Linked DNA regions of Homo sapiens: region 1 is linked to region 2. A link means that fine-mapping ties the variant in region 2 to the expression of a gene that starts in the linked region. Tissue or cell type: prefrontal cortex. Region 2 holds a variant in brackets; the other region holds the start of a gene. All regions are shown on one strand. Distances are from middle to middle.

Region 1 (5,119 bases), 780 kb before region 2:
ATCCACTAAAATCAAACCAAAAGTCTAAACAAAAGCATATTCTTAACAGATATTCAGAATACCATATTAAACGCAAAGTTTTTGGTAACATTCACTACATTCACTCCCCCTCCCTAAAAGAAAAAAAAATTATAGCAAAATAAAGTAAGAATTGGCTTAAGAAAAGTTCTGATGTATCTGGATACATACAGACACAGTAGAAGGCGCAAGCCTCTAATCCCAGGATTTTGGGAGGCCGAGGCAGGTGGATCGCTCGAGCTCAGTTCGAGACCAGTCTGGACAAAATGGCGAAACCTTGTCTCTACCAAAAATACAATAAGTAGCTGGGAGTGGCGGCACACTGTGGTCCCAGCCCCTGGGAGGCTGAGGTGGGAGGATTGCTTGAGCCCGGAGGGGGAGGTTGCAGTGAGCTGAGACTGCACGACTGCACTCCAGCCCAGGTGACACGGCTGTGTCAAAAAAGAGGAAGGGAGGGAGGGAGAGAGGGAAGAAGGAAGGAAAAGAAAAAAGAAAGCACCAGACAGGAAGGAGGGCACAATGGGCTCTTAATCAGGACTGTCACCAACCACCCCTCAGGCTAAATTTCACTTAAAGCAAACTTAAGGAAAAGATGCTGCATGTCCTCAATTCCATTTCATATTCTGTGCTCCCAAAAGATACGTACTCAGCTAGCAGTTTGTTGAAGTCAACCCTTAGTTTTACTACACCAGTGGGCACCTGGAATATCTGCAAAATGTGGACTTAAACATTAATACTGGCTAATGTCAGATTTCTGGCAAGGCAATATACAGGGATTGGTTTACTCACATTTGTAACCCCAATAAATATGCACTCCAAAATGTTTTTGTTGAATAGAAAAATTTGGAACTGGAAATGAAGAGTTTTTGATCTCTAAAATACATTAAAAATAAATACCAAGACGACATCTATATATAAATTTTAATGCAGAGTATCTGCATTATTGACATTATGCATTTAGTTTTTTTATGACAGACTAAAGTAGTTCAAGTTACTCTATTCTCAAAAAGAACTTATTTTACACCAAACATGGCAAGCATTACATACCCTTCAAATCTAAAGACTCTTTCCACACCATATATATTACATTTGCTCTCTTTTCCAAGCTCAGAAAGTTATAACCTAACTTTTCAGGTAAGTCTCTATGACAGTAAGACGGTTTATTTTCCGTTCTAAAATTTTCGACGATTCTCACAAGTCGCAAAACTCAGCAGGAAAAAAAGAAATCCGCGTGCTGTTAAAGTGGTAGATTTTTTTCAAAGACGACATATTTCAACGAGGCTCCGCAATGAATAATGGGAATGAATCTTTAAAAAAATTCAGATCGTGACTTACTAGAGAAAAATACCTCCTACAATACTTAAGAGTCACTTTCCCCAAATAAAGGCGGGAAATATCGTGCGAACTCCTAGCTTGCTGTTAAGGTCAATATCTCAATGATTACCAACCACACGGTTGATTAAATGTTGCACGATTCAAGCTTCCATTAATAACAAGATTCCTTTGGCAAAGCCCGGGAGAGAGGAGTCAAAACAGGAACTGGAAGCACCGGTGATCAAGAAGCAGTGGACTGCACCCACACACTTCAGGGCACCGCCCACCCACGTGTACCGCGGTCAGTTCCTCCCAGGGATGCTTCTGGGGACCAGCAACCAGCTGGGAATCCAGCAACCAGCATCGCGTCTCGGGTATCAGAAGGAGGTTAAGGTATGGGCCAGTCTAACGTGGCTGGCGTGTGGGGGCACAAACACAGCTCAGTCACCGCCAGACGGCCTTTTCTTCACCCTCCCAGGGCCCTCAGCTTCCCGGCGCCACCTTTGTAGCAGTATGGAGGCGACGCGTCGAGTAGGGGACCGACTATGAACTTGGGGGCACCCAAGGATTCCCTCTCCGCGACTGAAACCAGCAGACGAGAGCCTGACGACTGCCTTTCAGTCTTGCCCGCCTCCAGGCCCAGAGCATGGATGGCAGTGCCAGCAAGGAAAAGCAATATTTCACTCACCTAACGCGGGCCCCTGAGGTTCCACTGCAAAGGCTGCCATTGCGTCGGCAACTACACTTAAAACCAGTACCTTCCCAATTAATTTTCAAAAATGGCGGAAACGCTCCCCACGGGTAACGGCGTGCTACCTTATGGGGTTGCGTAACTTCCGGACCTGCGCTATGCTTAAGTTGTAGGCGCCGGAGCCATTTTGGAATAGGGCAAAGTCTTTGCGCTGAGAATTTCCGAGGAAAGGGTTTTTGCACCGGGAAGGTGGCGAACCAGCGTATGGTTCTGTGAATGCTTTTCATCCGGGAATGCTTCCTGATTTGTGGGTACTTAAGTTACATAGAAGCACAGATTATTTTACTCACGGTTTCATAATTAGCGTGAGTTGACCCAGTGCTCTATCATCGGTCAGCTTTTCTGAGTAGCACCTGGAAAAGTCAGCTTGATGAAAACAGTTGGTGCCTCTTTGCAATGTCGATTTCTGGACTTAGTACATGACGCTTTTTCCTCAAAGCATGTTTTCTACTATCCGTATGCCATTTCTTTTAAATTTTGTGTTATGTAGACAATTTTACATTAAAGCGTAACTCATACGCCGTTTTGTTGCATATTAAAACATACAAAAATATAGCTAACGAACGCATAAAGTACACATGTAAATAATGGAAGATAATTATACGCACCCACGAACCCTCCACACCGCGGAATCTTGCGTGCTTCTGCATGTGCCATCCCTGCCGTCCACGTCCCCTCACTTTGCTGCTTTTCTTTAGGGCATAGTCATACGTAAATCACATACACATATTCTGCATATGTGTGTGTAAAAATATATTGTTTAGTTTTGCTCAAATACTAACTTTATAAAATAATGTGCTACATATGTATAACTGGGGACGTTCTCTGCTCCATACCATGAGGATTATTTCCAAAATATCCACCCATGCTCAGCTATTTCTTCTAGGACTTCCTAAAATCTCAAATGGAGGAAGAATTTTGTCTTTGGAATGAGGCAGTAACAATTCCAGAATTAAATGGTAGGTTCACAGAAATCAAATTTTAAAACCACTCACAGATCGAATTGACTTTTTGAAAATGGGTGTGTGAATTGAATTGTGTCCCTCAAAAATTTATGTTCAAGTCCTAACCCTCATACTTATGAATATGACCTTATTTGGAAATCGGGTCTTTGCAGATGTAATAAAGTTCAGATAAAGTCACATTGGAGTACCACAAGCTCGGTTAACTAAACCAGCACAAATGTATCTCTTACAGTTCTGGAGGCCAAAAATCCAAAATGAGTATTGTAGGGCTAAAATCAAAGTACCAGAAGGACTATTTTCTTCTGGAGGCTCCAGGGGAGAATCTATTACCTTGCTTTTTCAAGCTTCTAGAAGCCACTTATATTTCTTAGCTTGTGCCACCTTCCTGCTTTTTCAAAGCCAACGATGTAGCATCTTTGGTCTGTCTGACACTGCTTTGTTCAGCTTCTGCCATCACATAGCCTTGTGATGACATTTAGGACCCACCCAGGTAATCCAGGATAATCTTACTATTTCAATATTCAGTAGAGGTGATTAAGTTAATAATCACATCTTCAAAATACCTTTTGCCATATAAGGTAACATTCACAGATTCTAAAGCTTAGTGTATGGATATCTTTGGGGAGTAGTCAGCCCACAACACAGGGCAATCCACTTTTTAGAATTAAGCTACCAAGAAAGGTATATCAATGTATAAATTTCTACACACATTGAGGCTAGATGTGGTGGCTCACACCTGCAATCCCAGCACCTTGGGAGGCTGAGGGGTTGATCACTTGAGTCCAGGAGTTTGAGATAGTGAGACCCCACTTCTCTACAAAATAAAAAAGAAATTTCTATACAAATTATGATCTAGCCAAACAAAAGAACACTATACAACAACTAAAATGAATTAGATGGATTTGATATGAGTGTAAATATTAACCTAGAAAGACCTCTGTGATAGATATAATGAAAAAAAGTAATTTGAAAACATGCATGCATATACGGCACCATTTTTATTTAATAACGGGTTTATTTAGGAACAGATGCAGAGAAAGAGAAAAGAGTGATACTTCTTTAAATAAAAGAAGATGTTGAAAAAGATTTGCACCAGCCGGGCATGGTGGCTCATGCCTGTAATCCCAGCACTTTGGGAGGCCAAGGCGGGCGGATCACGAGGTCAGGAGTTCCAGACCAGCCTGGCCAACATGGTGAAACCCCATCTCTACTAAAAAATACAAAAATTATCCGGGCATGGTGGCACATGCCTGTAATCCCAGCTACTTGGGAGGCTGAGGCAGGAGAATCGCTTGAACCCAGGAGGTGGAGGTTGCAGTGAGCCAAGACCATGCCACTGCACTCCAGCCTGGCGACAGAGCGAGACTCTGTGTCCAAAAAAAAAAAAGAAAAGAAAAAGAAAAAGATTTGCACCAAACTATTAACAGTAAAGTAGAAAAGGGTTTGTAAATTGGAGGATTTAAGAATGGCCTTTACACATGTATACATATGTAACAAACCTGCACGTTGTGCACATGTACCCTAGAACTTAAAGTATAATAATAATAATAATAAAAAGAATGGCCTTTAACTTATTTTATACAATTTTGTGGTTGATGACAGGTGTTATTGCTATTTTATTTATTTATTTATTTATTTTGAGATGTAGTCTCGCTCTGTCACCAGGCTGGAGTGCAGTGACACGATCTCAGCTCTGGCACTCCACTGCAACCTCCACTGATTCCCCTGCCTCAGTCTCCCGAGTAGCTGGGAGTACAGGCGCATGCCACCACACCCAACTCATTTTTTTTTTTGAATTTTAGTACAGACAGGGTTTTACCATGTTGGCCAGGATGGTCTCGATCTCCTGACCTCATGATCCACCTGCCTCAGCCTCCCAAAGAGCTGGGATTACAGGTGTGAGCCACCGCGCCCAGCCCTATTTTCTTTACTTTTTAAATTAAAAACTTTTTTCCATTAAGACATTTATTTTCTTTTCTTTACCTGCATTTCAATCTTTTACCCTTTCAACAGGCTCTTTCCTTACCAAGCTATAAAGAAGCCCAGAATTGAAACCCTCCCTAGGCCTTGC
Region 2 (5,000 bases):
ACAAAAACCTAGTACAGACACTATTACTTTAAAGATGCAAGCAGTTTTCCATCTTGCAAAGGTAAAGATAGAAATACACTTTTGGTACTGAATATTTCTTTGTCCAGAAAATAACCATAAGTATTGACATAATGGTAAAGCAGAGGCCATGACTACAAGTGGAGGTGTTAAAAAAAGCCAAGATGAGTCGAATGCTCTGCTCTGAGTGATTGTGTATAAAATAGTATGGAGTCTGGAGACAATCAAATTATGTTATAATTAAGTACAATAGCTAGGAAGATTGAAGCCAATTTGCAGCCATTAGTAAGAGCAAATCAACATACAATGTATTTGTGTATACTTATAATCCTGAGTTTTCATTTTAAAATATTTGTTCATATTTTCTTTGTAAACATTATATATATTTCATTGCATATGAATAAGATTCCCTATATTCATATATTTTATAGTATGATGCAAAAATATAAACAATATTTTCAATTAAATTTCAGTGATGGCTTCAAAAATATTGATTAAAAGGCCAGGCTTCATTTCTCATGCCTGTAATACCAGCACTTTGGGAGGCCAAGGCAGGAGAATTACTTGAACCCAGGAGTTTGAGACCAACCTGGGCAACATAATGAGACTTTGAATCTACAAAAAATATTAAAAATTAGCCAGGCATGGTGGCGTGTGCCTGTAGTCCCAGTTACTTGGGAAGCTGAGATAGGAGGATCACCTGAGCCCAGGGAGGTTGAGGCTGCACTGAGCTGTGATTGTGCCACTGCACTCCAGCCTGAGTGAGAGTAAGACTCTGCCTCAACAAAAAAAAAAAAAGAAAAAGAAAAAGATTAAGAGATTACTATGTATTTGGACATAGTAATGTGGTCTTTGGATATTCTTGACAGAGATAAAATATGGTCGATGGTCTTTGGATATTCTTGCCAGAGATAAAACATTTAATATCTTAATTACTAAATATAAGAAATCATAAATGGTAATATTGTAATTCTGGTACCACAATACCCAATTTAATTGTTATCACAATTAATTGATAAGTATATTGCAAAAACACAATAATAGTTTAGAAGACATAGACCTGTATAAAATGCTAACCTTGTCAATTAGGCTGCAAAATGTTTTAAGTGTAAGAATTTTTAGAGGTTGGAGCAATTTTAATGACAAATTTTCTAGTTGTTTTCTTATCTTAGAAGAAACATATTATACTAATATTGTAAGAATAAAATTCAAAGATCACCTAGTTAGGTCTGCTGCTTATGGCATCTGAAAACCTTCAGAATTATTTCCTATTTAAATTATGTATATGTACTGTGAAGTGGTTAGTTGGTATAGTGCTGTATATCTATTAAATGTTAGCCAGGGAATAAGGTGATAACTATTAACTCTAATTTATAGTGAATAAGCAGGAATTAGACCTGCCTGCTTAATGTTAAATTTCCACCAAAATGCCCAAACAAAACAACCTTGAACTGTGACTATACCTGAATTGACCGTGTCCTTGCAGGTGGTGACATTGTAAATTGAATTATGCACACTCTAAGTGGATGAACTGATTCATGCAGAACATTCAGGTGTCAACCAATGAGTATTATGGGCCTATTTGTATATAAGACAATGTATCCACTCCATAGTCCAATTATAAAACATAATTATAGTTGCATTTATTCTTCATATGCAGTTTGTACATGTATTCACACACAAACATATGTGAACGCATGTATGTGCATATACATATTGTATATTCACCTTATCCTGCATAGGAGTCTAAGGGACAGAGAAAGTGTCTTATTATTCTGGAGCCCTGAACCTCTCTTCAGTATAACACATTAGAATCTCTAGTTATAGGTATGAAAGAGTCTATTGACTTTCTTGCAAAAGAGTTCCATATGAAATTATGTTATGTAATATGGTTCCATATAAATGATGACTATTTCTATATTTTAAATAGAAAACTCAGTATAAATTAACTTAGTTTTTTTGTGTGTGTTTGTTTTGTTTTTCATTTTTGAGACGGAGTCTCGCTTTGTTGCCCAGGCTGGAGTGCAGTGGCGCGATCTCAGCTCACTGCAACCTCCACCTCCCAGGTTCAAGTGATTCTCCTGCCTCAGCCTCCTGAGTAGCTAGGACTACAGGCACGTGTTACCACGCCAGTCTAATTTTTTGTATTTTTAGTAGAGATGAGGTTTCACCGTGTTAGCCAGGATGGTCTCCATCTCCTGACCTCGTGATCCTCCCTCCTTTGCCTCCCAAGGTGCTGGGATTACAGGCGTGAGCCAC[C/T]GTGCCTGGCCTATGTTTAGGTGATGTTTTTTGCTTCAGAATCTTTGAAAAATCTTTCTTTACAACAAACCTTCATGACACGTGCTTACCTATGTAACAAACCTACAAATATACCTCTGAACTTAAAATTTAAGAAACAAAAAATACTATATAAAAACAAACAACAACAACACTTTCTGATTTGTCTACCAAGTCTGGTCCAGGTATAGTACAAAGAAGTGAAATGTTCTCAGCCAAAACATAAAAGATTGTTTAATAGTTATAAAATGAACATTTAACACAAAATTTCTGGGAGCAAATATGAGAAAATTCTGCTAATATATAAAAGATAACTATAGAAAAGGGCCGGGTGTGGTGGCTCATGCCTGTTAATCCCAGTGCTTTGGGAAGCTGAAGTGGGAGAGTCACTAGAGGCTAGGAGTTCCAGATCAGCCTGGGCAACATAGCGAGGCCTGGTCTCTACAATAAATAACACTTTTTTAAAAAAAGTAGCTGGGTGTGGTGGCGTGTGTCTGTAGTCTTAGCTACTGGAGAGGCTGAGATGGGAGGATTGTTTAAGCCCAGAGGTTTGAGGTTGCAGTGAGCCATGATTGCACCACTACACTCCAAGCCTGAATGGCAGAGAAAGACCCTATCTCAAAAAAAGAGGATAAAGAAATTTTACCAAATTTGTAGCTTATTCAAAGAAAGTGTCACATGTGAACACAATAAAGCACCAGAGTAAGAATAGCTTTCTCCCTATCAATTGCTCACTCAGTGAAGTTACAAAGAAAATTTCATAAGTAAGAGCTTATGCTTTATGGGGGTGATGGATAAGATAAAACTGCATGTCACACCTGTTTATCAAAATATATGACCAGGCCAGGCTGGAGTTTCTGGGGCTGCTGAATCTTCAGGGAAGGGAACTATGAGGTAGATTGGAGTTCCCATATGAGTGTACCATGGGACTAAACAAAGACGATTAACAATGGGGATATCTTCAAAGATGACATTAAAACAGTTATTGCCACAAATATTGCTGTTTTTATAGTTAGAAATTTAGAAAAATAGCCTCTGTATACAAGCACAACTCATACAAATGACTTCATCAATAGGATGCTGTGGATGAGGAGTTAGAAATCTTGGCTTCTTGAGCCAGATTGGCTACTTCTTGGTCTTGTAATTTAGATAGGATCCCAAATCGCTTGAATTTTGCTTCTCTCCTTAATAAAATGAAGGGAATTATTCATGTCCATGTTCCTCTCTATAACGTTGTGAGAATTGGGATTGAAAGTGTTGATGTTTATAAGAGTACTTTGAAGGAGTAACATACTATTGAAAACTTAGGTTTTATTATTAATGAACAGCCAAATTCCTGTATGCTCAGCACCATACTAAACAATGCCAGAGCATGTTAGAAAACAGTTTACACTTTCGAAGCTTCTAGGAGGAAATAACACTTTAAGTCAGAGTCCAGAGAACAGGAAGACACCTTAGAAGTTAAATTACGTATCCAAACTCTCCATTTTACAAATGAGAATTCTGAGACCTAGAAGATCCGTTTGATTTATCCATGATTCTACAACTAGCCTGGCATAACCAGGCATCATGACTCTAAAGGAGAGGTAAGAGAAATTCTCTACAATATATCCATTTGATCTGTTAAAACATTCATCATCATTAAATTATTTTTAATACCCAGATTTCGGTTAACTTCCTTCTGTTTTAACATCAGGGCTACAGAAAAGCTAGCTATTGTCCCTTACATTCTAGCTATTTAATTTATATATAACATAGTCATGCAATTTTCACAGAAAACCCTTTCTTAACCACTTTTCCTCCTACTTAAAAATCTGAAGATGCTACATGTAGTTAAGGGCTAGCTTCTCTTTTGTATTCTGTTTCTAATTTCAAACTTCCCATTTTCTGCAGTTTTACAAGAGGTATTTCATGAAGTGAGTTTTATGAGACAAGGTGCCCTTGGCTTAGTTTAATGCCACATGAGAAAGGAGGTGTCGGAACCCAAAATAGCCTTTAGAAGCTTTATTCTTCAGTATTCATTTCACTTGGAGGCTCTTTGAAAGTTTTGACAGCAAACTAGTCTTCAGTGATGAGAGCAGGCATTACCCATGCAGAAGTTATGGTGGTGAATTTTATTAGACATACTTTCTGAAGAATAACATTTAAATTGGATATAATTTGCCTGAAAGCAAATAGAAGTACAGTTGCATATATTACAAATGACCTTAAAAGCAGCCATTTGCTTATTTTGAAACTCTTCTGACAATTTTATAAATCTACAAACTGCATATACTTCATTTTAACGTTTACCTTGGCCTTGTCATAATTCAACAATCCCCATAAATTGTTCTTTAATGAAAGTTGCATTTTACAGTATAATCTCAGCCATCTATGCCCAAACTACGCAGCAAGAGCTTGCTTTATCAGGATTATTCTGAGGCATATTTACATCTCTAGAATAAAGTAGGATATTGAATATATGATTATCATTCCCTTTGCCCTAAGTAAATTGGGTTTAGGACTTTAGAAAATGAAAACTCTTCTCCCTCTTTCACAAAACATAAGAATAATTGCAAAAGTTTCATGGAATCTACATGGAGTAGACCTGCTAAATCAAAATTTCATGGAGTGTTAATATTTTTAAAATGCTCTACAAGAGATTATGAGTGGGCAGGTTTTGGAACCACTGTCATAGATGGAAGTAGAATATTTAATTTCCTCTG

The links. PIP is the estimated chance that this variant, and not a neighbour inherited with it, causes the effect.
Region 1: it holds the start of NUP35, and the variant in region 2 is fine-mapped to the expression of NUP35 in prefrontal cortex (BrainSeq, PIP 0.95).

The regions. Positions count from the first base shown.
Region 1 is chr2:183,121,399-183,126,517 of GRCh38, reverse strand. NUP35 (nucleoporin 35) reads right to left here and starts at 2,075. Exons shown (of 9, transcript NM_138285.5): 1 at 2,021-2,075. The coding sequence starts at 2,060. It overlaps LOC124907917 (a long non-coding RNA gene), which reads left to right and starts at 1,561. Exons shown (of 2, transcript XR_007087331.1): 1 at 1,561-1,725; 2 at 1,811-2,601. RefSeq lists an enhancer at 1,257-2,025.
Region 2 is chr2:182,339,690-182,344,689 of GRCh38, reverse strand. The region is part of intron 1 of PDE1A (phosphodiesterase 1A); the gene reads left to right. LOC124907915 (a long non-coding RNA gene) reads left to right here and starts at 2,227. Exons shown (of 2, transcript XR_007087329.1): 1 at 2,227-3,881. The variant C/T (reference allele first, on the strand shown) is at 2,278.